2 separate regions of the Homo sapiens genome follow, and region 1 is linked to region 2. The links come from fine-mapping of genetic effects on gene expression. A gene starts in region 2. The other region holds a variant in brackets. All regions are shown on one strand. Distances are from middle to middle.

Region 1 (12,963 bases), 120 kb before region 2:
ACCATGCTCATGGATTAAAAGAATTAACATAGTTAAAATGACCATACTATCCAAAGCAATCTACAGATTGAATGTAATACCCATGCCACTTTTCACAGACATAGAAAAAATAATCCTAAAATTTGTATGGAACCAAAAAAGAACCCAAACAGCCAAAGCAATCCTGACCAAAAAGAACAAATCTGGAGGCATCACACTACCTGACTTCAAAACATATTACAAGGATATAGAAACCAAAACAGCATGATATTCGTGTAACAACAGACACATAGATCAATGGAACAGACTAGAGACACAGAGATAAATCCACATATTTACAGCCAACTGATCTTCTCCATAGCCCTCAAGAACATACACTGGGGAAAGAAAACCCTCTTCAATAAATGATAACCACTTATTCTTCTATATGTAGAAGAATGAAACTGGACCCCTATCTCTCACAATATACAGAAGTCAACTCAAGATGGATTAAACCCAAAAGTATAAAACTACTAGAAATAGTAGTAGTTCTAGGGAAAACTCTTCAGGACATTGGTTTAGGCAAAGATTTTATGGCTAAGACCTCAAAAGCACAGGCAACAAAAACAAAAATAGACAAATGAGAGTATATTAAATTTACATGCTTCTGCACAGCAAAAGAAACAATCAACAGAGTGAAGAAACAACCTCTTGTATAGGAGAAAATGTTTGCAAATTACTCATCCAATAGGGGACTACTAATACCCAGCACATACAAGGAATTCAGACATCTCAACAGTTAAAAAAAAAACTCATTTAAAAAAATGAGCAAAGTACATGAATAGACATTTCTCAAAAGACATACATATAGACAAGAGGTATATGACTAACACCACAATGTGATTTCATCTCACCCCAGTTAGAATGGCTATTATTTAAAAGACAAAAAATAACATGCTGGCAAGAAAGAAAAGGGAACTCTTATATACTGTTGGTTGGAATGTAAATTAGTACAACCACTATGGAAAATAGTATGGAGATTTATCAAAAACCAAAAGGAGGCCTGGCATGGTGGCTCACGCCTGTAATCCCAGCACTTTGGGAGGCTGAGGCAGGCAGATCACCGGAGCTCAGGAGTTTGAGAACAGCTTGGCCAACATGGTGAAACCCTGTGCCTAATAAAAATACAAAAAATTAGCCAGAAGTGGTGGCATGTGCCTGTAGTCCCAGCTACTCAGGAGGCTGAGGCAAGAGAATGGCTTGAACTTGGGAGGGGGAGGTTGCAGTGAGGTGAGATTGCGCCACTGTACTCCAGCCTGAGCAACAGAGTGAGATTCTGTCTCAAAAAAAGAAGAAAAACAAAACAAAAGGAGATCTACCATACAATCCAGAAATCCTACTACTTGGTATCTATCCAAAGAAAAAGAAATATATTTATATCAAAAGGATATCTGCACTCACATGTTTATCACAGCACTATTCATAACAGCAAAGATATGGAATCAATCTAAATGCCCATCAACAGATCGATGAATAAAGAAAATGTGGTGTATATAACCAATGGAATATTATTCAGCCATAAAAAATAATGAAATCATGCATTTTGTAGCAACATGGATGGAACTGGAGGTCAGTATGTTAAATGAAATAAGCCAGGCACAGAAAGACAGGTACTACATGTTCTTACTCATATATGGGAGCTAAAAGCTTGACCTCATGGACATAGAGAATAGAAGGCACAGATACCAAAGACTGGGAATCGGGGGTGGGGGAGAGAGTTCGGTTATGAGTCCAAACATATAGTTAGATAGAAGAAATAAGTTATAATGTTTGATAGCAGAATAGGATGACTATACTTAGCAACAATATTATGTATATTTCAAAATAATTAGAAGAGAGAACTTGAAGTAATACCAACATGTAAAAATACTACCCACTCAAGTTAACAGACATCCCAATTACTCACACTTGATCATTACACATTCTTTGCATATAAACACTCACATGTACCCCACAAATATGTAAATTATGTATCAATAAAAGAGAAAAAAACAAAACAAAAAATACATGAAAATAAAGTAAGTCTCTCTTTTTTTTTTGAAACGGAGTCTTGCTCGATCTCGGCTCACTGCAAGCTCCGCCTCCCAGGTTCACACCATTCTCCTGCCTCAGCCTCCTGAGTTGCTGGGACTACAGGTGCCTGCCACCACACCCAGCTAATTTTTTGTATTTTTAGTAGAGGCGGGGTTTCACCATGTTAGCCAGGATGGTCTTCATCTCCTGACCTCGTGATTCACCCACCTCAGCCTCCCAAAGTGCTGGGATTACAGGTGTGAGCCACTGCGCCCAGCCACTAAGTCTCTTATAAGCAGAAAAAAAGGAAATACATGATGTTCTAAAACCACAAAATAAAGGATAAAGCTTCTCTGGGAAGGCTTCCTTGAGGAAGAGACAACTGATAGTCTGGGATCTAAGGTTGAGAATGTGTTACTTCCATGTAAGGGGAAGCAAAGGGCATTTTAGGCAGAGCTAGGAATGGTGCATGCAAAGGCCAGGTAGCAAGAGATAGTATGTAGAATATAAGGGATTGACAGAAGCCTGGTGATATAGTTTGGATATTTGTCCCCACCCAAATCTCATGTTGAAATGTAATCCCCAGTGTTGGAGGTGGGGCCTGCGGGGAGGTATTTGGGTCACAGAGGCAGATTCCTCATGGTTTGGTGTTATCCTGGCAATAGTGAGACAGTGTTCACTAAATTTAGTTGTTTAAATGTGTAGCACCTCCCATCCCTACTCTCTCTTGCTCTAGCTCCTGCCATGTGAGATGCTGGCTTCCCCCTTTGCCTTCCACCATGATTGAAAGCTCCCTGAGGCTTCACCAGAAGCCAAGCAGATGCCAGCAACATGCTTCTTGTACAGCCTGCATAACCACGAGCCAATTAAACCCCTTTTCTTTATAAACTATCCAGTCTCAAGTATTTCTTTATAGCAATGCAAGAACGGCCTAATACACCTGGTGTAGCTTGGCCAATGAGATTAAAAAAGAGTGCAGTAAGGGATGAAATTTAAAATGCAGGTAGATTGGGACCAGTTTTGTTGATGTTATAATTTTTAAAATTCAAATTATTGATTCATGTTGGAATATATAATACATTCATGTAGCTCCAAAAGAACACAACAGCAGATTATACCAAGGTGTACCATTAAAAGTCTTCTTCTCATCCCTGTATCCCCTTACCCACGTTTCTCTATCCCTTTTAATCAGTTTCCAGTTTCCCACCTGTCCTCCAAAGTTGTAGAAGGGTTTTAAGCAGAGGAGTAACAAATTTGTTTTTTAAAAAGTTCAACCATTGTGGAAGACAGTGTGGCAATTCCTCAAGGATCTAGAACTAGAAATACCATTTGATCCAGCCATCCCATTACTGGGTGTATATCCAAAGGATTATAAATCATGCTGCTATAAAGACACATGCACACATATGTTTACTGCGGCACTATTCACAATAGCAAAGACTTGGAACCAACCCAAATGTCCATCAATGATAGGCTGGATTAAGAAAATGTGGCACATATACATCATGGAGTACTATGCAGCCATAAAAAAGGATGAGTTCATGTCCTTTGTAGGGACATGGATGAAGCTGGAAACCGTCATTCTCAGCAAGCTATCACAAGGACAGAAAACCAAACACTGCATATTCTCACTCATAGGTGGGAACTGAACAATGAGAATGCTTGGACACAGGGTGGGGAACATCACACACCGGGGCCTGTCATGGGGTCGAGGAGAGGGGAGGGATAGCATTAGGAGATATACCTAATGTAAATGATGAGCTAATGGGCGCAGCACACCAACATGGCACATGTAATACATATGCAACAAACCTGCACGTTGTGCACATGTACCCTAGAACTTAATGTATAATAAAAAATAAATAAATAATTAATTAAATAAAAAATCATTCTGACTACTATGTGGAGAGCAGACTGGTAGGGGCACACACGGAATAGACAGAGTGGTTAGGAAGTTTTGAAGTAGTCTAGAGAGAGAAGTGAGGAGGTTCTGGCTAAAAATATGCAGAAAGGGATGGAGAACCTCTGGCAGAGGTGAGAGAAATTTAGAAACTAAAATCAACAAGAACCAGAGATTAGTTGGATATGGGGGGAAAGAAGGAGTTGGATAAAGAAGAGGATAATTTCGAAGATAAATAGCTGACTTCCAGGTTTCTGGTTTCTATAAATGGATGGAAGTCAGGGCCATTCCTTGAGATTGGGAATGGTGGAAGAGGACCAAAGAGGGGTCTCTGCGTTTCATTTTAAAGATACTGTCTGAGCTATCTTTGAGCTGCTTAAGGGGAGACATTAAGTAGTCAGCTGGATTTATAACCTTGGAGCACAGGGGAGAGGTTTGAGCTCTAGGAGGAACCATGGAAGCTGTGGTTATAAATTTGATAATCTAGAAGTTCAGAATGGAGAGCAGATGGTTCAGAATTGGGCCTTGAGGAATTCCAACATTCAAAGACGGGGGAAAGGAACACGGACCTGAAAAAGAAATAGAGAGAACACTGAAAGAACCAAAAAAAAAAAAAAATTTCAAGAACAAGGGGTACTCAGTAATGTTAACTGCTACTGTGTATTTAAGATGATAAGATTTTTTTTACATCTACTAGATTCAGTGATATGGAGGTTTTCTACAACCTTAGTGGAAGATTTGGCTGTGTAATAATCAGGAAAAAAGCATGATTAAAGTTGGTGAATGCTGAGTAAGCAAGAAGGAAATGGAGACTCTAAATACAGACAATTTTGTTGAGAAATCTGATTTGGAAGGAGAAGGATATGATATGATGGTACCTGGAGGAGAATGTGGTACTGACCAAGAGTTGGGTTCATTTGTTTAAATGGAGAAGAGTTGAGCCTGTTTAAAAGCTGACTGGGAATATCAAGGGCCCCCCAGTAGTCAAAACCATTTTGAAAAAGAAGAACAAAGTTGGAGGATTCGCATTTCCTGATTTCAAAATATATTACAAAACTAATCAAAAACAGTGTGGTTCTGGCATAAAAACAGACACATAAACCAGTGGAACAGAAAAGAGATCCCAGGAATAAATCCTCACATAAATGGTCAAATGATCTTCCACAAGGGTGCCAAGACTATTCGATGGGGAGAAAGAACAATCTTTTCAACAAACGATGCTGAGAAAACTGGATATTCATATGCAAAAGAACGAAGTTGAACCTTACCTTACATAATATACAAAAATTAACTCAAAATGGATTAAAGACAGAAATGTAGAGAGAGAACCCTGGAAAAGCAAAGTATCACGGACCCAATCTATAAAACTTCCAGAAGAAAAGAGAGGAAAAGCTTTATGACATTGGGGTGGACTTCATGATTTCTTGCATATGACACCAAAAGCACATACTACAAAAGCAAAAACAAACAAATGGGACATCAAACTTAAAAACCTTTAGGTATCAAAAGACACAATCAACAAAATGAAAAGGTAACCTACAGAATGGGAGAAAATATTTGCAAAACATATGAAAGAGTTAATCCTCAAAATACATTTTAAAACTCCTACAATTCAACAACGAAAAAATCAGATAATCCAACTTAAAAATGGGCAAAGGACTTAAATAGACATTTCTACAAAGATGATATATAAATACCCAACAAGCATATGAAAAGATACTCAACATTACTAATCATTAGATAACTGCAAATCAAAATCACAATGAAATACTACTTCATAGCTTGATAGTAGAATGATTACTACCACAAAAACAAACAACAACAAATCAGAAAAGATCTAGTGTTAGCAAAGATGTGGAGAAATTAGAATCCTCATGCACTCCTGGTGAGATTGTAAAATGGTGCAACCACTATGAAAATCAGTATGGTGTTTCCTCAAAAAATTAAAAATAGAACTAGCGTATGATCTAGTGATCTCAATTCTGGGTATACATCCAAAAGAATTGAAAGCGGGGTCTTGAAGAGATATTTGCACACTCATCTTCATAGATGCACTATTCACAAACTCTAAGAGGTGGAAGCAATCCAGATGTCCACTTATGGATGAATGGAGAAAAAAAAATGTAGATACCCATACACTGGAACATTATTCAGCCTGAAAAAAAGAAGGAAATCTTGTCACATGCTACGACACGGATGAACCTTGAGGACATTATGTAAGTGAAACCAGTCAGTAACA[A/G]AAAGATATATATTGTAGGATTCCACTTAGATGGGGTATCTAAAGTTGTCAAATTCATAGAAACAGAAAGTAGAATGCTGGTTACCAGGGGTTGAGGGGAGGGGGAAAAGGGGGCATTGTTGTTTAATGGGTATAGAGTTTCTGTTTTGCAAAATGAAAAAGTTCTGGACATCTGTTTCACAATAATGTGAATATACTTAACACACTGAACTGTACACTTAAAGATGGGCAATTGTGTTTTAAAAACACAGTACCATATGTTTTTATCACAATAAAAAAATTAATTTAAAGTTTTTTACTGAAAAAAAAGCTGACTGGGAAGATCAAACTGACAGGTTAAATTTATTTATTATTTATTTATTTATTTATTTATTTAAAAAGCAGGTACCTGTGCCAGACACTGTGCTAAGTATTTCATATGTGTTAACTTACTGAGTTCCCATAATAAACCTATGACTTAGGTATTTTTATTTTTGTTTGATAGCTAAATAAAAACTGGCACAAATAGATGAAGTAACTTCCCCAAAGTCACACAGCTGGGAAAGCCAAAATTTGACACCAAAAAAAATGGAGCAGTCTGTGCTTTCCACTACTATGCTGCACATCAGAGAAGTGACAGTCACATTAGGTTTGAGAAGGTTTGGATCCCACTTTGGGATCCAAAGTGAGGGCCACAGGTTCCTATTCTTTCTCAGTTCACAGTACCATTTGTGTCTCTCTAATTTTTTACAGTGCCCCTAGGCCAAAAGAAATACCAATAGTTCCATTTATTAAATAGATTAAAGCAACTTAATAAGTATTTATGTCCTAATAAGTTAATAGCCATTTGGAAATATAATACACAGAGATTGAAAGAAAAAGATTTTTATTTCATTCCTAAATAACTACTTACTAACAAGTTGTGTGTACTAACAGAAGACAGGCACCACAAAACTTGTCAAATTTTGAAATCAAATTGGACATCCTCACCCTAATTCCTGTTCTATGCTGATTATTGTGTAGTAGCTGCTTTTTATCACAGCAAGCCCTGAAAACCCAGCTTCAAATAGCTATGACAACCTGAAAAAGAATGTAGCATAAACTAACATTGAAACTCTGAACTATCTGGGGCTAATAGTTTGTATCTTCGACAGTAGTCTCTGTGTTTTCCTTGAGACTTTAAAAAATATCCTGCAGCATGCCTGTGAATTCACTGTAGTACCCAGGGTGCCTCTGTGCCTAGTTTGGGAACTTTAGGTCTAGGTGGAAGACTTGGCTCAGATAAAACAAGGGACTGTTCTATTATGGGAGAAGGATGAACACAAAAATAGACCAATTTATATGCTTAGTGGGGCCTCACAATTCAACCTAGGATTCCACTAAGACCAACAGGACTACCAAAGGACAGGTACTTCTTCACTGTGGAGAGCCACTGTGAACATTTTATATACAATACTATTTTATGAGTAGTTATAACTGCTTTTCATTTCACAGTCACTTGTTAAGTAGTTTATCTGCTAAGTTAATATTTTTATTTTTGAAAAAAACACTTTATTAAAAAAACTAAGGGACATATAAATTACAATTTGGCAAAAGTACCTTATGTGTTTTCTCTATTAGTTACATTGACATATATATATATAAAACGTAATATTCTCAAATATCACGAATATAAATTTGCTGTGTTTTCACACTTAACCTTAGATGCTTAGTTTATACATACATTTATATCACATTCTAACTTGTACATTTAATACAAAGTTATAAATTTAAAATAAGTCACTTTTTAAGTTTCTACAAAACTGATAAAACCTGATTAAAAAATCAGTACTAGTATTTAAATATAATTTATTAAAGTCTTCTCATTAGCTAACTATGGAAGTACAACTTTACCCTCCCTTTAAAAACTAGATAAATATTTGGTATGTGTTTGTAAAAGACACGTGAAAAACAACAAGAGAGGAGTTAGATTATTCAGATTTGAACTCATTTAGCTTGACACATATGATTAACTATAACTGAATAAATATGAGAAAAATTAATAGTCCTGAACTGGCTTCCTTTGTAGCAAAATACGTGGAAGCTTCCAAAACGTTATTAGTCATGAATGCCAACAGTGGAGCCAGGAAATTAAGAGTTTCTTTAAAGAAATGTTTTAAAATGAAAACAATTAATAAAAGCAAAGAAATAACCATTTATGAAGAGAACAGGAAGAAAATGTTGATTGATGATACAAAGATATATTATTAAAAAGAAGACCAAGTGTTTCTTTGTGTCACAACCATGTTGCAAAATCGGGTAAATATTCTACTGTATTCTTAAGCATAAATAATATATCAGTCAATTATCATAGGTCATTGAATTTTGGATTGAAGTAGTCAAGATACAATGTAAATTTCCTGTTTTTCTTGGAAAGGAATAAAAATTTTGTCCAAGGTCCAGCGGTGGCTCACACCTGTAATCCCAGCACTTTGGGAGGCCAAGGTGGACAGATCACCTGAGGTCAGGAGTTTGAGAGCAGCCTGGCCAGCATGGTGAAACCCCATCTCTACTAAAAATACACAAATAAGCCGGGCATGGTGGCACACACTTATAATCCCAGCTGCTCAGGAGGCTGAGGCAGGAGAATCACTGGAACCCAGGAGGTGGAGGTTGGAGTGAGCCGAGATTGCACTCCATCCTGGGCAACAGAGGGAGACCCCATCTCAAAAAAACAAACAAACAAAAGAAAATGCCAGGCGTGGTGGCTCAGGCCTGTAATCCCAGCACTTTGGGAGGCCAAGGCAGGTGGATCATGAGGTCAGGAGTTCAAGACCACCCTGGCCAATATGGTGAAACCCCATCTCTACTAAAAATAAAAAATTAGTCAGGTGTGGTGGTGCACGCCTGTAGTCCCAGCTACTCGGTAGGCTAAGGCAGGAGAATTGCTAGAACTTAGGAGGCAGAGGTTGCAGTGAGCGAAGATTGTGCCACTGCACTCCAGCCTGGGCGACAGAGCAAGACTCAGTCTCCAAAAAAAAAAAAAAAAAAAAAAAATTGCCCAAGGAAGACTAATTATCAAGGGCATGATATTAAACTCACTAGCTGAACATTTAAGATTCCTCAGGTACAATGTTGTGTGTATACACAAACATACACACATCCTTTAATGTAAATCTTTGTGAGTGTGATGGCTATGGCTGTATGCCACTCAGAACTCCTTCAAGAGGAACTGAGGCTGGCGGTAAAGTTGATGGAGAGAAGCCACACTTTCCCTGGGTGGCTACCAGCCAACGACTGAGCATCACTGGGTACTAGGGCCAGCCCAATCCTGTCCAACAGGGGATTCCTCTAATGAATAACATTTGGCCTGGCTGAAACTTTCTCAGCACCATGCTTCAGCCTGCACCTCTTTCTATCCAACCCTCCTTCCTTCTCTCTCCTTTCACATGTTCAGACTAGCATCATAGTTTAAAAGCTCTCCCCACCTACTCCTGCTCCCTTCTTCATCATCTTTCACATCTCCCCCACAAATCTCTCACATGGCTAGTACTATCTTGCCATCTGCTTCTTAGAAGACCCAAACTGACACTGAGCATGATTGAAAAGGATTTCAATTAAAGGAATGCATGTATAAATTGTTAAAATGTCAGAGAATACTTGGAATTAAAACAGCTGTTTACTGTCTTACCTCCACCCCACAGCCTCTCATCCCACTCTCAAAGATAATCATTTTCAATTCTCTTAGCAGCTTCTTCTGTTGCTACCTCACACTTCTAAGTAACATGATATGTTAGTTAGAAATGCATTCTTGTGTATGTAACACAAACCTGAAAACTCACTAGTTAACCAAATAGGGCTTGTTATTCTCACTTAGAAAGAAATATGAAGTTGAGCAGTCCAGGACTATAAAGCATCTCCATGATGTCATCAGATACCAGGCACCTACGTTCTATTCCCTCCCCCCTTAGCAGGTATGTTTTTCTTTCTGTCTGTCTCTCTCCTTCTTTCTTGCCAACAGCTCCAGCAATTAATGCTCCCCTTTCCCTGCATTGATTTCCCTCTTTCCATTGGATTATTCTCATTAGCATACCAATATCTGTTATTTCTCTCATCTAAAAAAGAAAGAAAAAATTAAAACCTCTTTTGACTCCATTTCTCCATCAAGCTCCTACTCTATTTCTCCATTTTCCTTTACAACATTAACCCTTTTTATAAGCCCCTAATTTCTCTCCTCCCATTTTCTCTTAAATACAAGAAAAAAAAAAGCCCATTAAAAAGTGGGCAAAGGACATGAACTGACACTTTTCAAAAAAAAAAGACATACATGCAGCCGACAACTCTATGAGAAAAAGCTCAATATCGCTGAGCATTAGAGAAATGTAAATCAAAACCACAATGAGATATCATCCCACACCAGTCAGAATGGCTATTACTAAAAAGTCAAAACATAACAGATGCTGGTGAGGTTGCAGAGAAAAGGAATGCTTATACACTGTTGGTGGGGGTGTAAATTAGTTCAACCACTTGGGGGAAAGCAGTGTGGAGATTCCTCAAAGTCCTAAAGTCAGAAATACCATTTGACCTAGCAATCCCATTACTGGGATATACCCAAAGGAATATAAATAGTTCTATCATAAAGACACATGCATGCATATATTCATTGCAGCACTATTCACAATAGCAAAGACATGGAATCAACCTAGATGCCCATCAGTGGTAGACTGGATAAAGAAAATGTGGTACATGTATACCATGGAATACTATGCAGCCATAAAAAGGACTAAGACCATGTTCTTTCCAGGAACATGGATAGCGCTGGAGGCCATTATCCTTAGCAAACTAACTCAGGAACATAAAATCAAATACCACATGTTCTCACTTGTAAGTGGGAGCTAAATGATGAGAACACATGAACAAAAAGAAGGGAACAATAGACACTGGGGCCTACCTGAGGATGGAGTGTGGGAGGTGGGAGAGGAGCAAAAGAAATCACTACTGGGTACTCAGCTTAGTACCAGGATGACAAAATAATCTGTATAACAAACCCCCATGACACATATTTACCTATATAACAAACCTGCACATGTACTCTTGAACCTAAAATAAAAGTTTTTTAAAAAATACTTTCCAATCAGGCTTCTACCATCACCTTCCATTGAAACTGCTTTTATCTAGATCATGAATGACCTGCATGCTCCTCCATGCAGTGGCCAATGGCCACCATCTTGTTACAGGTATCTTGGCATACTAGTAACACTCCACTTTATTCTTGAAACTTGGTTTCCAGGACACCACACTCCCTTCATTGTGCTCTACTTCTCTAGCTACTCCATTCTGTCTCCTTTCTTCATCTTCCCTTTTCTCCGTCTCTCTAATCTTAAAATGTTAGTGGACTCCAGGGCTCCACTCTTCAGTCTCCTCTGTTTCTCTGTCTACACCCACTCCTTTGGTGATCTTCACCAGTCTTTTGGCTTTTAGTGCCATCTGTGTTGCTGCCACTCAAATTTATACATCTGGCCCAAATCTTTCCCTCAACTACAAATTCCAATAATCAACAATCTATTTGACTTCTCTAATTGGCTATCTAATGGGCATTTCAAACATACCATGTCCAAAATTGAACTTCTGATAAGTCCCTCAAAAATATCTCTTCTCAATCTTCCCCACATCAGTAAATGACAACTCCATTCTTCCAATTCCTCAGAAATTTCCTCTATACCCCACATTTGATCCATCGGCAAATTCTGATGCCTCAACACTCAAAATATACCCAGAATCTGGCCATTTCTCACCACTCCACTGCTATCATCCAGTCAAAGCCACCATCACACCTTACCCTGGACTACGGCAACAGCCTTCTAACTCATCTTTTTCACTGTCTTCAATCTATTCCCATCAATAGCTACAGTGATCCAATTAAAAAGTAAATTGAAACATATTTCTCCACTCAAAACTCTTCAAGAGCTTCTCTTCTCATTTAGAGTAAAAGCCAAGCCCTCTGGATGACCTAGAAGACATATAACTAGTGTCACATTTCCTTTCTGACCTCAATTCCTACTACTCTTCTTGCTCATTTCACCCCACTCATATCAACTCCCTGCTATTCTTCAAACATGCCAGGTATACTCCCATCTCAGGGCCTTTGTACCTGTTGTTCCCTCTACCTGGAACGCTCTTCCGCAGGTATCTTCCATGGTTTACTCCCTCACTTCCTTCATATCTTAATCTCAATCTGGGGATACTTCATTAAGGCCTTTCCTGGCCACCAAATATGAGGCCCAGCCTGCCCTACCATCCCCCATCATGCTTTCTTGCTTGCTTTTATTTTTCTCTAGTAGTTGCACTCTCTTACATATTTTCCTTATTCATCTTTTCTTGACTCTGTCCTCTTTTAGAACATAAGCTACATGAGAACAGGGATATTGGTCACTTTTGTCCCTTTTGTTCACTGCTATCCCCAGCACATAGAATACTATCTGGCATATTGTTGGTACTAAATAAATATGCATTGAGTGAATGAATGGTCACAAGCTGCCCCTACCCTTTCTGGATCATATCTCAGATTCAGACTTCTAAAAGAAGGCGAAGAGCAGAAGCGGAGAAGTTATAACCCAATTCTTGGAAGTCCCACCAGTAACCTCTGCTTAGCAAAGCAAGACGTGCTTCATATGGCCAACTGCAGCTGGAAGGGGAATAGGAAAGCCAAGAATTTTTAATTGGTTATATTGCTACTCTGAACATCAAAGTCAGTTCATAAGGAAAAATGGATGATGGACAAGCAAGGAGTAGTGTCTTCAATAGATGCTGTTTCTTGATTTAGTCATTACTTATT
Region 2 (12,773 bases):
AAAACATCAAACAAACCCAAATTGAGGGATGGTCTCCAAAAAACTAGCCTATACTCTTCAGAAATGTCAATGTCATGAAAGACAAAGAGGGCCAATAAACTGTTCCAGATTACAGGAGATTAAAGAGATATGACATCTAAATTAAATGCACAATCCTGTATGAGGGGAAAAACATTATGAGACATTACTGAGACAACTGGCAGCGTGTCAACAGGAGAGTATATTAGATACTTGTACACATCAATGTTAAGTTTCTTAACTGTATAATGGTTAAGCAAAAGAATGCCTTGTTCTTGGAATATATTCACTGAAGAATATAGGAATATAAAAGGACACATTGTCTGCAAGTTACTCTCGAATGATTCAGAAAAAATCAAGGGGATAGTGTGGTGGGAACATGTGATAAAGCAAATGTGACAACATGTTTAAAAGGTAAATCTAACTGAGGGGGCCTTAGAAGTTCTTTTTACTATTCTTACAATTCTTCAGTAAATTTGAAATTATTTCAAAATAAAAGACTAAAAAAAATAGCTGAGCTTGTAAGAGAGAGCACTTCTCTTCACCAAAAAGTAGGAACTAAAAACCAACGTAGAAGGCATACAAAGCTGTCTTAGAGCTTAGTTCCATAAGACATATTTCCATATGTCTTTGTGTGAGAGAATGTACAGTGCAAGGAAGGGGAAACCAGGAGTAGCCCGGCAAACTTGAGTTGAGCAGACAGAACTGAAAAACTGGAGAAGACAAGGTAGTTAGTTCCCTGGAGAGGGAGAATCATACAGAGAGAACTCCAGAGAATTTCAGAGGGTTCCGCTTGAGAATTCAGCTGAGTACTCACAGCACATGCATATGATCAAACCATGAGGCTGGAGAAAGAGCAACTAGAAATGATTACAGATAACAGTGCTTGGCACTCATATCGGGCTGGGAATAGTGCCTGTTCTCACCAGCCCGACAGAAAAACTTTGTGATTCACAGTCATTGGGTAGAGTACACAGAAAAGTCTTGGCTCAGGAGTAGGAAATTATTACCCCTAGTAGCTGAGCAATACTCAGATCCTGACTAATATTTAATAAATCTTAAAAGCAAGTTTTGAAAGAATTAAACTAATTTCAAATAATTTAATTGCATCACAGAATAAAGCTCAAAGTTATTTATAGAAAGATAAAAATCATTCAGGCTGGGCATGGTGGCTCAGGCCTATAATCCCAGCACTTTGGGAGGCTGAGACGGGTGGATCGTTTGAGTCCTAGAGTTTGAGACCAGCCCTGGAAACATGGCAAAACCCTGTATCTGCAAAAAACTACAAGAAATTAGCCAGGTATGGTGGTGCACACCTGTAGTCCCAGCTATTTGAGAGCTGAGGATGGAGGATTGCTTGAGCCTAGGAGGTTGAGGCTGCACTGGCCACTAGCTCTAGCCTGGGCAACAGAGCAAAACCCTATCTTAAAAAAAAAAAAAAAGAAATGTAATATTCGCAATCTGACATTTAATAAAAAAAATTACCAGACTTCCAAAGAAGCATAAAAATATGGCCCATAATGGAAATAAAAATTAACTAAAACCAACCCAGGACTGGCAGACATGTTATAACCTGGAGACTAGAATATTAAAACAATGATTATAACTGTATTCCACATGTTAAACAAATGTAGTAGACATGAAAGATATTTTTTAAAAGACCCAAATCCAACTTCTACACATAAAAACAATATGTGAAATAAAAAATATACTGGATAGAATGAATAGCATATTAGACATTGCAAAATAAAAAACTGGTGTCCTTGAAAACCTAGCAACAGAAACTTTACAAAATGAAACCTAGAAAGAAAAGATAATTTTAAAAATAAACAGAGCATCAATGAGCCATGAGACAACTTCAATCAGCTCAAAATACATATAACTGTCATCCCCAAAACAGCGCAAGAATCGAAGAGCACACAGAAAAAAGTATTTCAAGAAACAAGGTCAAAATTTCCCCAAATTCATTGAAAACTATAAACCTATGGATCCAAGAAGCTCCATGAACCCCAAGCACAAGAAACATAAAAAAGACTACACTTGCAAGGCACATCATAATGAAATTACTCAAAACCAGTAATAAAGAGAAAAATGTTAAAAGCAGCCAGAGAAAAACAGACACTTAAGTACAAATACAGAAAGATAAAGATGATAGTAGATTTTTAATCAGAAACAAGGCAAATGAAAAAAAACAGTGGATCAAGATCTTCAAAGTACTGAAAGAAAAAACTATCAATCTAGAACTCTATATCCGGTGAAAATATCTTTCAAACAAACATTTTTCCACACATACAAAAGCTGAGAGAATTTTTCAGTAGCCAATCCTAACCACAAGAAACATTTTTAAAAAGGAACTACATTAGACAGAAGAAAAATCATACTATATTAGAAATACAGATCTATAAAAAGAAATTAAAAGACTGAAAATAGTAACCATATTGATGAATATTTAAGATATTTTCTCACTAAATCTCTTTTAAAAATAATTGACTAAGCAAAAATAACGATGATGTTGTATGGGGCTCATAACATGTAAAAGTAAAGTGGTCAGGAAAGGAGAAATGGAAGTAAATTATTGGCAGGTTTTTATACATGAAATGGTATAATATCACTTGAAAATACACTATGATAAAGGATGTATGCTATAAACCCTACAACAGTCACTAAAATAAAGTTACTGTCAATAAGCCAATAAAGGAGATAAAATGGAATTGTAAAAAATTTCAATTCATCAAAAAGAAGGAAGAAAAGAAGAGAGAACAGAGAACAAATGGGACAAATTGAAGACAAATAGCAAGACGTCATTTAAATTTAACCTTGAAATTTTGAAAACCTGGCAGAGCACGGTGGCTCATGCCTGTAATCCAAGCACTTTGGGAGGCCAGGCGGGCGGATCAGGAAGTCAAGAGATCGAGATCATCTGACCAACATGGTGAAAACCCATCTCCAATAAAAATACAAAAATTAGCTGGGTGTGGTGGCACGTGCCTGTAGTCCCAGCTACTCAGGAGGCTGAGGCAGAAGAATTGCTTGAACCCAGGAAGTGGAGCTTGCAGTGAGCCAAGATTGCGCCACTGCACTCCAGCCTGGCGACAGAGCAAGACTCCGTTTCAAAAAAAAAAAAAAGAAAGAAATTTTGAAAAATGTAAATAGTTATTTTAGGGTACTAGTGTCATGAGTGACTGTATTCTCTCTCAAATTTGTTGTTCAATAATAAAAGATAAAGTTCTAAGTCACCATGTTTCATATAAAATAGGATACATATGAGTGGTCAGTGCCTGTAGTCCCAGCTACCTGGGAGCCTGAGGCAGGAGGATCATTCAAGCCCAGGCGTTCTAGACCAGCCTCAGCAACCTAGCGAGACCACATCTCAAAGAAGAATAAGAAAAAAAAAGAGTGGCCAGAGATATATGTATGTCTTAAACTAAAACAAAAAATAAAACCAGGCTATGTGCAGTGGTTCATGCCTATAATACCAGCGCTTTGGGTGGCCAAGGCAGGAGGATCACTTGAGCCCAGGAAATCGCGGCTACAGTGATATGATCATACCACTGCACTCCAGCCTGGGAAACAGAGTGAGATGGCCTCAAAATAAATAAATGAATGAATAAATACCCACATACTAACACAGCTTAAAAAGAAGTAGATCACTAATATTTTGAAGACCCCAGTACCCCGTCTCCTACTCTCCTCCCCAAGCAACCACTATCCTGAATTCTGATTAATCATTCCTCTGCTCTTATTTATGGTTTTACCAGATGGGTTTGAAATCGTGAACAACAGTATTTGTTGCAAATTTTTAATTTTTATAAAAATTAAATCATAATGTATATATTATTATATGGTTTGCTTTTTTCAATTAACATTGTATTTTTGATGCTCATCCATGTTGGTGTGTAGCTATATTCATTTTCAATGAATCCAATGAAAATGAATTCATTTTCAATCAATCCAATGGATTTCAATGAATCCATGTTGGTGTGTAGCTATGTTCTATTCATTTTCAATATATTTTTACATTTTCCTATTGATGGCCATATGGGTAATTTCTAGAGCTGTGCTCTTAGAAACAGTGCTTATGAACATCTTGTACATCTCTTGATTTAAATGGGTATGTAAAGGAATGGAATTGCTACATTACGTTTCCAGATATAATGATCACTCTGTGTTATTAGCCTCATTGTATTAATAAATGAAGATTTATAGAGACCAGGAAACTTGTTCAAGGTCACACAGCTAGGTAGTAAAGTTAAGACCAATAAATTCTGCTCCTTTCACTTGAAAAAAACTCAAGGTTAGGTAGCTCATACTTCTGGAAACATGTAATTATCAAACAGAATCCTGATGAATAATGTTTTATCTTGTTTAACTAAAGTTAAAAGAGGAGGTCCTAGCAAATTATTCCACTCAATTCTACCACTTGACCACTCAAAGCAACTTGACTACGTAATGATCATGATTAAAACTTTTATCCTATTAAAATATCCTGTATTTCACCATTCCTGAAAATTCCAGTCAAATGTTATAGTTTAAAATGTGTACAAATTGTGTATGTATAAAATTGTAAGACATAGTAATAAAGTGGTTCTCATTGAGACTACAGTTTTAAATTAAATTACAAGCACTTTTATTTTTGCCATAACTAAATTTGGAATTACTACGTTTAAGATTCACTAAAGTGAATGTAATAATTATTTTTAAAATACTACATATTCATTTTAAGAAATTACTTGAGAATACTTTCAAAAATGTCCTGCATGTCACTTAAGCCAACAAATAATTTCCAAGATACCTAGCATTACACTTAAATTTTAAAAAGGGTAAAAAGCCAAAGTTTTTTTTTTCAGCTAAGGTCAACTATTTAGCTCTGCAATCTTTCCTTTAAAAAATATTTGTAATAATTTGGTCTCTGATTTATTTCACAAGTCTTAACCTTGCTTTATAAATAATCCTATTTTCAATCACACTCCATTATCTAACATGGCTGTTTACTAAATACATGATCCTATGGTAAAGTACATATTTCTAAAAATGTAGCTACTTAGACAGACAGCAATGTAAAGGCATCTTTACATTATAGTACTCTCTAAATATTACATTGTTACTTTCAACAAAAAGGAACCAGATTATAACAAAATTGTTATAAAATAGCTTAAAAGTGTAATAGAACTTCATTAAAGAAAACATTAAGATGAATGAGTTTTAACTAGATCTATAACAATTTTATATATGCTAGAGATAAAATTAATATGAGGTTAAATAATTTTCTTTTTTTTTTTTTTTTTTTGAGACAGGATCTCCCTTTGTCGCCCAGGCTGGGGTGCAGTGATGCCAGTGCAACTTCTGCTTACTGGGCTCAAGCAACCCTCCCACCTCAGCCTCTTGAGGAGCTGGGACTACAGGTGCACAACACCACACTCAGCTAATTTTTTAAAAATTTTTTGTAGAGACAAGGTCTCAGTATATTGCCCAGGCTGGTCTCAAACTCTTCGACTCAAGCAGTCCTCCGGCCTTAGCCTCTCAAAGTGCTGAGATTACAAGTGTGAGCCACCACGCCTAGCTGTGGTTAAATAATTGTATACTATAAAAAAGCATAAGATCTTGTGAGTTCCAAAGTGCCTTGGGTATCAAGAGCCAACATTCTATTTCAGAGATTTGAAACTTAATGATCCTTTAATATCTTTGCTGGATGTTGTTAGAATGGTATTTCAAACATTTTCTACAATTTGAATTAAATATTACCTTACTAAATAACGCGAGGCTGGGCAAAAAAAATGTTAAGCATAACTCCAAATATAGCATAACAGTTTAATGCTCTGTTTGTTGCCTTAACAAAAAATGAATGTCTGCAACACATTCACAAACCACCTGGAGATTCAAACTCACAGTGAAAGTGCAATGACATATTGTGCTACTTGACATTAGCTATTACCAAAGACGGTTCAAAAGGAAGAGAACACAGACAATCTTATTAGTATAATTGGAAATGTGCTGATATACCCACCTTACCAAACATCTTCTCTTGCAGTGTATTATATTACCTGAGAAAAGTAACTTACAATCAGTGCTAATATGCTCCTTAACCTGATTTACAAGGGCAACTAGCAATAAACAGAACAAGGCCCGTGAACTACCACACAGGTGACTTCAATTCTGTATATCTGGACTGGATGGGAATACGGGGGCTTACATGTTTGTGGCCTTCTTGGAGTATGGGAATGTCCTGTCCTGCTATAGGACTGCAGTGAGAATTCTGGTTATAAAAAGTCTCCCTTGTAAAATTCACTGTAAATCGAGGACAAAAATCATGAGATTGTTTTGTTATACTTTAAGTTCTAGGGTACATGTGCACAACGTGCAAGTTTGTTACATATGTACGTATACATGCCATGTTGGTGTACTGCACCCATTAACTCGTCATTTACATTAGGTAAAATCATGATATTTTTAAGGACAACAACATGGAAAAATCTTTCTGTTAGCAGCTAGTAGAAGAATTCATTTAGGAGGATAATGGAAGAAATTTTTCGTAACTGCTCAGAGTAAAAAGTAAAACTCAGAGAACCTAGGTTTGAGAATAATGCACACCTACTAATTCAGGACTAGACACATAAATTTGAGAGTTTTTGACATTAAAAGTAGCATTTGAAGTGATGCAACTTATGAATTAGCTCACTGAGGGATTTAGTATAGACAGAGAATACAGGCACCCCAATGTTAAGAGATCACAACTAAAAAAAATTTAGAAACTCCGCAGAACTGAGAACCAGTAACAAAAGAGGAAAACCAGGAAAGTATGTTGTCTGAGAGCCAAATGAATAAAGAGATACAAGGAGAGTCATTCAGGTATGATATTAATAAATGCTAAAAGTAAAGCATTACATTTCTTTCCAAAAATAGCAAATCCTCCAAACTGAAATAGAGAAAAATTGAAAGATATTACTTGGCATTCATTTATCAGTGACAGAGAAAAAACGGAAGTTCTAACAATGTTATCTAATAGAGATGTTTTATTCATTTTCATTACGTATATGCTGTGTATGCTACTCCCGAGCATCATATCTTCCTTTTAACATCCACAAGAAACAAGCTTTCAAAAAGCACAGCAATTCTCTTGGCAGCATTAATTTTAAAGAGAACCTCTTAAGTTGTTTTACCAGCTGAGACTGACTGACTAAACAACCAGTGTCTCCCCTTCAGTCGCCAGTCTTTCCTTAGAAATGCCTGTTTGGCATAACTTTAAGACTCAAGATGGTTTAAGGCGCATCCTGTTTCTTCCAAAAGGGAATGGACAAAACTCAACATTCACGGAGGGCTTAGAGCAAATTAGAACCGTATACTGTGACCTCCTGGAAGGGAGAGGCTCACCTCCTACAAAGTAAATGCTCAATAAATATTTTTGATATAACTCTGGAAGAGCTCCATTTGGGGTCGGGGGTGCACCTACTCCAGGGCACCACCCCCTCCAAAATAGCTGCATTCCCACAGCCCTCATACTCCGCTCAGAAAAGGGACCGGCGAGCTTGCAGGCATCCGCACAGCGGATAAAAGCAAAGCGGGACGGCGCACCAACCGCATTCCGGATCCTAAGGTTAAAAGAAAACCCCTTGCCCTCGGGCCAGGGCTCACCTGTCTCGGGAGTGGGGAAGAAGCGCGACTCCCGGCCGCTTTGGAGTAGGCGTCCCAGCAAAACTCTCGCCTCATCACCAGACACTACCCCGGGCAGAAGGTTCCTAGGCTAGGTCCTCGGACCCGAGAGGGAGCGACACGCTCGCTTGGTCTCTTGGGTCTCCAGGACGCCGCCGCCGCCGCCACAGTTTCCTCAGGTGCTACAAAGCAGCCAGGGTGTGCGTGCGCTCCCGCCTCGTCGCTTAGCAACCTGAGAAGCTGTCCGGTCGTCCCAACTTATCAATTCCCCCGCCCCTCCAGAGTGTCAATCGTTTTTTAAAAGATTTTGTTTCCGGGTCGATCCAGCTTTACGCAGCGGAAGGTCTCTTTACCTCCCACGTTTACCCTCATGGGAGGATGCAGTCTCAGTCACGCGCGTGGGGGTGATGTCGCTAAGGGGTGATTCTCCCCTCCCTAGAGTTACACACGCTATCTCTCCCGCCAATTGCCGGGCTCCATCAGGCAGGTCCTTTCCTCCTGAGCCCAAACCATCCGTTTGTTGTCGTCCTCCAATCACAGGGGCTCATCCTCAGGGACTACTTTGCAATCGGCGCAGAGCGCAGTGAGAAGAGCTTGAAAAAAACCTCTGGTATCGGGAAGTGTAGTTCAACACTTGAAGGAAATGCTTTGGAGATTGCGCCACAACCAGGGCAGCGTAAACTACAGTTCCCAGAGAGCGCCGCGTCGGGAGCGGAGCCTTTTCTCGCTAACACCGCTCGCCCTCTCCGAGTCAGTTCCGCGGTAGAGGTGACCTGACTCTCTGAGGCTCATTTTGCAGTTGTTGAAATTGTCCCCGCAGTTTTCAATCATGGTGAGTGTGGGCCCCGGGTTCCTGCCCACCTCTGGCCCTCGCGCCCTTGAGTGGGGTTTCTTGCACTTTAGGGACTTTTGGGAGGCAGCTGTGCAAGGCACTGTCCTTCGCGCCCTTTGGCAAGCTCGGACTCATCTTCTGGGGATTGCCGCAGTGACCCAGTAATGGGAAGGGATTGATTTCCACCTTGCGGGGTATGGGGCGCTCTTAGGAGGACTCTGGAGAAGTAGTTGTCCTGGGAGAGGAGCGATCTTAATCCTGCTGCATGACGGGAGGACAAAATGCGACGCTGCAGCTATTTTCCAAAGGACGTTACGGTGTTTGATAAGGACGATAAGGTTTGCGATGGGAGGGAAAGGTTGGGTCCTAACCCCTTTTTCTCCTCATTTGCCCACAGTGTTTATAACGGCTTTTGTCACAGGGACCTTGAAAGCAAAAAGCTGGAAAGGTAGTATTTACCAGGTGCTCCAGATTACGATCTGCGTTTGCAGCAGACGTGTTTCCGCCATATCTAATTTCTCAAAATGTTATTTGGAACCCGTTCATTGACCTTTTTTGTAATGCCAGGATATATTGAAGTGACAGCATCACTAACTAAATAACTACTGCAAATATTCTTTATTGAACTGTATATTGTGAATTCCAGAAGCACCTCTCTTAAATGTAACAGAGTAACCATTTTGTCATGGAAGACCTGGGTAACCTGCATCTCCATCGCTTGTCTCTGCTGAAAGAGAGGGGGAGGGGGAGAGTTGGTGAAGGAACTCTGGCGTAGGAATAATCTGCGTACTGCTTGAAGGTGACATTTGTCATCAAACTCAGAGAAATCGCTTCATACTATCAATACAATGGCTTGTATTTATAGTTGCGACTGTTTTTCCTACTTTATCTGCAAAATACTAAAACGGCTGGAGAATGTGGAGAAATGTTTGAATGAATTGGAAATTTCCCAGAACCTGAAAAGACACGTTTTCAAGGCAAGGGCATTACTCTCTCTGCCTGTCTAACGGGGCCAGTGGAGACAGCTACTAATTTCCAGTAGGTGTTAAACCTAGGTTTCCTAAATGTTTTGTCACATAATTAGTCATTTAAATTATGGTTTCGGTAGTTTCTGTCCTAATAACCTTAGCTAGAAAGCAGAGGTACTTATTATCTGATAACCTTGGACTTTTTGCTTTTAGAACTGAATGGGATCTTTTAAAGGTCATCTTGACGAATCTCCCCACTTCAGATCTTAAAATGGAGTTTATCGAGACCCAAAGAGAATGTGATTTGCTCCAAGAGTCTCACACTCTTGCCATTTTTCTATATTGTGTCTTACACTTACCAAGTCTTTCTGAATTTTTATTTTTATAGGGACCACCGCAGTGAGGTCTCGCAGCGGGGGAGAGACAGTGTACTCAACTCCCTGAAAACTTATTTTTACTAGCTGAGATTCCGGATGAAGTTACCAGTTCATACTGCATATACAAACTCAAATATGTTATCAGCATGTAGATTACTTGATAGCTTTATTCCTTGCCATTCAAAATACTGGAATTGTAGAATTAAAAGGGAATTTGGAGATTATATTATCTACTCTTATAATGTAGTCTGGTGAGGTCAGATAATTTTCCCAAGGTCACAGAGATTTTGGGCCCCAGATTCTTAGCTAGTTTCCCTAGCAAGGCCCCACCGTTGGAAGGTCACTGGGGTGCCAGATAACACAGAGACAGAACATGAGGAAGAATTTGTCTGGCAGTTTGCTGGAACTGACAGCAAACTCACACATGACTCAATTTCCCTGCCCCCTCAGGAGGGTGTGTGAATGGACAGAGTTAGAAAAGAGCCTTCTTCTGTAAGCTCATTCAAAGCGGAGGATTCTTTGCTTGTTGTCTGTAGGGAGTGACAGCAAAATAAACTGTATGAAGGAATCTAAATGGTACTGCTTAGTTTTTTGTGTTATAGAAATACATGTAATTTAGAAATATATATAAATTTGAAAGTGAAAAAGAAATATGTGGCTCTGTCTGTGGAATAACAGACACTTAAATTCAATCTTTATAGCTGAGAAGTTAGCACAGAGCCTGCATCTGCAGGAAAGTCATTGGTGCCCTGCTAAGAGCAAAGACGTTCCTTTTTTGGACCTTGGCACACTGCCCAGATATCTGAGCAAAGAATAGTAACCTATGTTCACACTATAACATTGTGAAAGTCAGCAGGACTCTCCCACCCTCCTGCTTTTCAACTGCAATGTTGCAGAAGAGCAGAAAGAACCATACATGGACTTTTCTTTCTCTGTTTCATCTTCAGACATTCAAACACTAAGCCTCATACTACCATTAATAAGATGGAATTACCTACCTGGGAAAGTAATTTCCCCAAAGACACAGAAGAAAACTGCTGAGGTGGAATTAACTGTTCATTAGGTGGCCACAACCCCTTCACTAAGGACTGTGATACTGTGAACATGTTTTTAAGTAGCTACTAAAATTGACTGCATTATTCTAACCATATAGGTGACCTTATGGGAAGTTAAACTTAATAGATAGTGATCTTCACTCTCTTCAGCCCCCCTTTTCTTATCCTAGTTTGCTGTTCATTGAAGTAGTATCTGTTCATACTTTATACCCTAACCTTCCTTCATTCAACAAATACTTTTTGTGGAAATGCAAATCCATATCAAAGACAGACTGTTCTCAAGAGCGCTTCATGGCCTAATACAGAGCAACAGAAATGTAAATAGAAAACCACAGGCTATTAAAGTCTTTAGAGGAAAATTCTGTGATGATATTTATAAATACTCACTACGTACTGTTCTTAGTGCTTTGTGTGTTAACTCTTTTAATCCTTAAAACTACTCTGTTTGTTAGGTAATTGCTATTATTATCTCCATTTTACTATGGGGAAATAATACAGAAAGGTTAAGTAACTTGTCCTAGAGCATGCAGTTAATGAGTTGTGGAGCCAGGACTTGAACACAGAAAGTCTGGCTCCAGAGTCCATCTCTTTAATTACTACTCTCTACTGCTTCTCTAGCCCCCTGTTTTAGAAAATTGGTGTATCCTTTTTGTTTCCTTCACGTGATTCACCAATGGATTCCCTGGCCTAAAATAGTACCAAGTACATGATAGGAACTTAATGATGTTTTGTTTAATGAATGAATTAAATGAGAAAACAGTTCATCAGTGGATTTATAAGGTAATATCATTAGTACTAATGACAATTTTGTTAGCTATAGTTGGAACTATTGTGGTCACTAAGTTTCCAGTTTTCTCAATACATAATATATATGAATAAAATACCTTTTGTTTTCATAGTATATATGAAAAAGTTTTTGTTTGAGACAGGATCTCACTCTGTCACCAAGGCTGAAGTGCACTCACACAGTAATGGCTCACTGTAGCCTTAACTTCCAAGGCTCAAGTGATTCTCCTACCTCAGCCTCCTGAGTGGCTGGAACTACAGCATCTGCCACCACACCCAGCTAAATTGTTTTTTTAAGAGACAGGGTTTCACTATGTAGCCCAGGCTGGTCTCGAACTCCTGGGCTCAAGTGATCCACCCGCCTTGTCCCCCCGCGCAATGCGCTGGGATTGTAGGTGTGAGCCACTGCACTCAGCCTGAAATAGCTTAAATAAATAAAATATCTTAAAAAATTTTTTAAAGCACGTTACATATGTTTTCAAACAGTTCTTATACATTTCCATCTTTTTGATAGTTTTACAGGACCCAGCTATTCCTTCAAGCAAATACCAGAGTTCCAACTACAGGACAGGTGTTGTTCTAGGCAATTGAGATACAGCAGTAAATAAAATAGACAAAGTTCCTGTCCTTAAGGATCTCGTATTCTAAAGGGAAAGGGAGTAATAATTTCTTCCTGTATTCCCTTTTCCTCACCTACTCTACTTCAAGGAAAGAAGGGAAAATGACAGAATGAAAAACGTGTAGGCCATTAAAGATTTTTCTATAAATAGTAATAAATTAGAAAAAAAAAATTGTGTAGTATGTAGTTGGCTATGATCAAATTCATTTCTCTACACCAGTTGACACTTTTTGTTTTTTTTGTTTGTTGTTTTTTGTTTTTTTTTTGAGAAGGAGTTTCGCTCTTGTTGCCCAGGCTGGAATACAATGGCACGATCTCCACTCACTCAACCTCTGCCTCCCGGGTTCAAGTGATTCACCTGCCTCAGCCTTCCAAATAGCTGGGAGATGCCTGCCACCACACCCAGCTAATTCTGTATTTTTAGTAGAGACGGGGTTTCTCCATATTGGTCAGGCTGGTCTCAAACTCCCA

Which allele goes with the higher level. Positions count from the first base shown, and alleles are read on the strand shown. Sizes are in standard deviations (SD) of each study's normalised expression.
In carriers of allele A in region 1, the expression in thyroid of the gene that starts at base 7,928 in region 2 tends to be higher than with G alone (small effect, 0.23 SD a copy in GTEx).

The links. PIP is the estimated chance that this variant, and not a neighbour inherited with it, causes the effect.
Region 1: its variant is fine-mapped to the expression of WDPCP in thyroid (GTEx, PIP 0.99).

Annotation. Positions count from the first base shown.
Region 1 is chr2:63,458,616-63,471,578 of GRCh38, forward strand. All of the region lies in intron 6 of WDPCP (WD repeat containing planar cell polarity effector), which reads right to left. Among named protein-coding and RNA genes, the nearest start is that of WDPCP, 120 kb to the right of the region's middle. The variant A/G (reference allele first, on the strand shown) is at 6,171.
Region 2 is chr2:63,580,550-63,593,322 of GRCh38, forward strand. It overlaps WDPCP (WD repeat containing planar cell polarity effector), which reads right to left and starts at 7,928. Exons shown (of 18, transcript NM_015910.7): 1 at 7,648-7,928. The coding sequence starts at 7,722. It overlaps MDH1 (malate dehydrogenase 1), which reads left to right and starts at 8,414. Exons shown (of 9, transcript NM_005917.4): 1 at 8,414-8,497. The coding sequence starts at 8,495. RefSeq lists enhancers at 7,093-7,613, 8,125-8,444.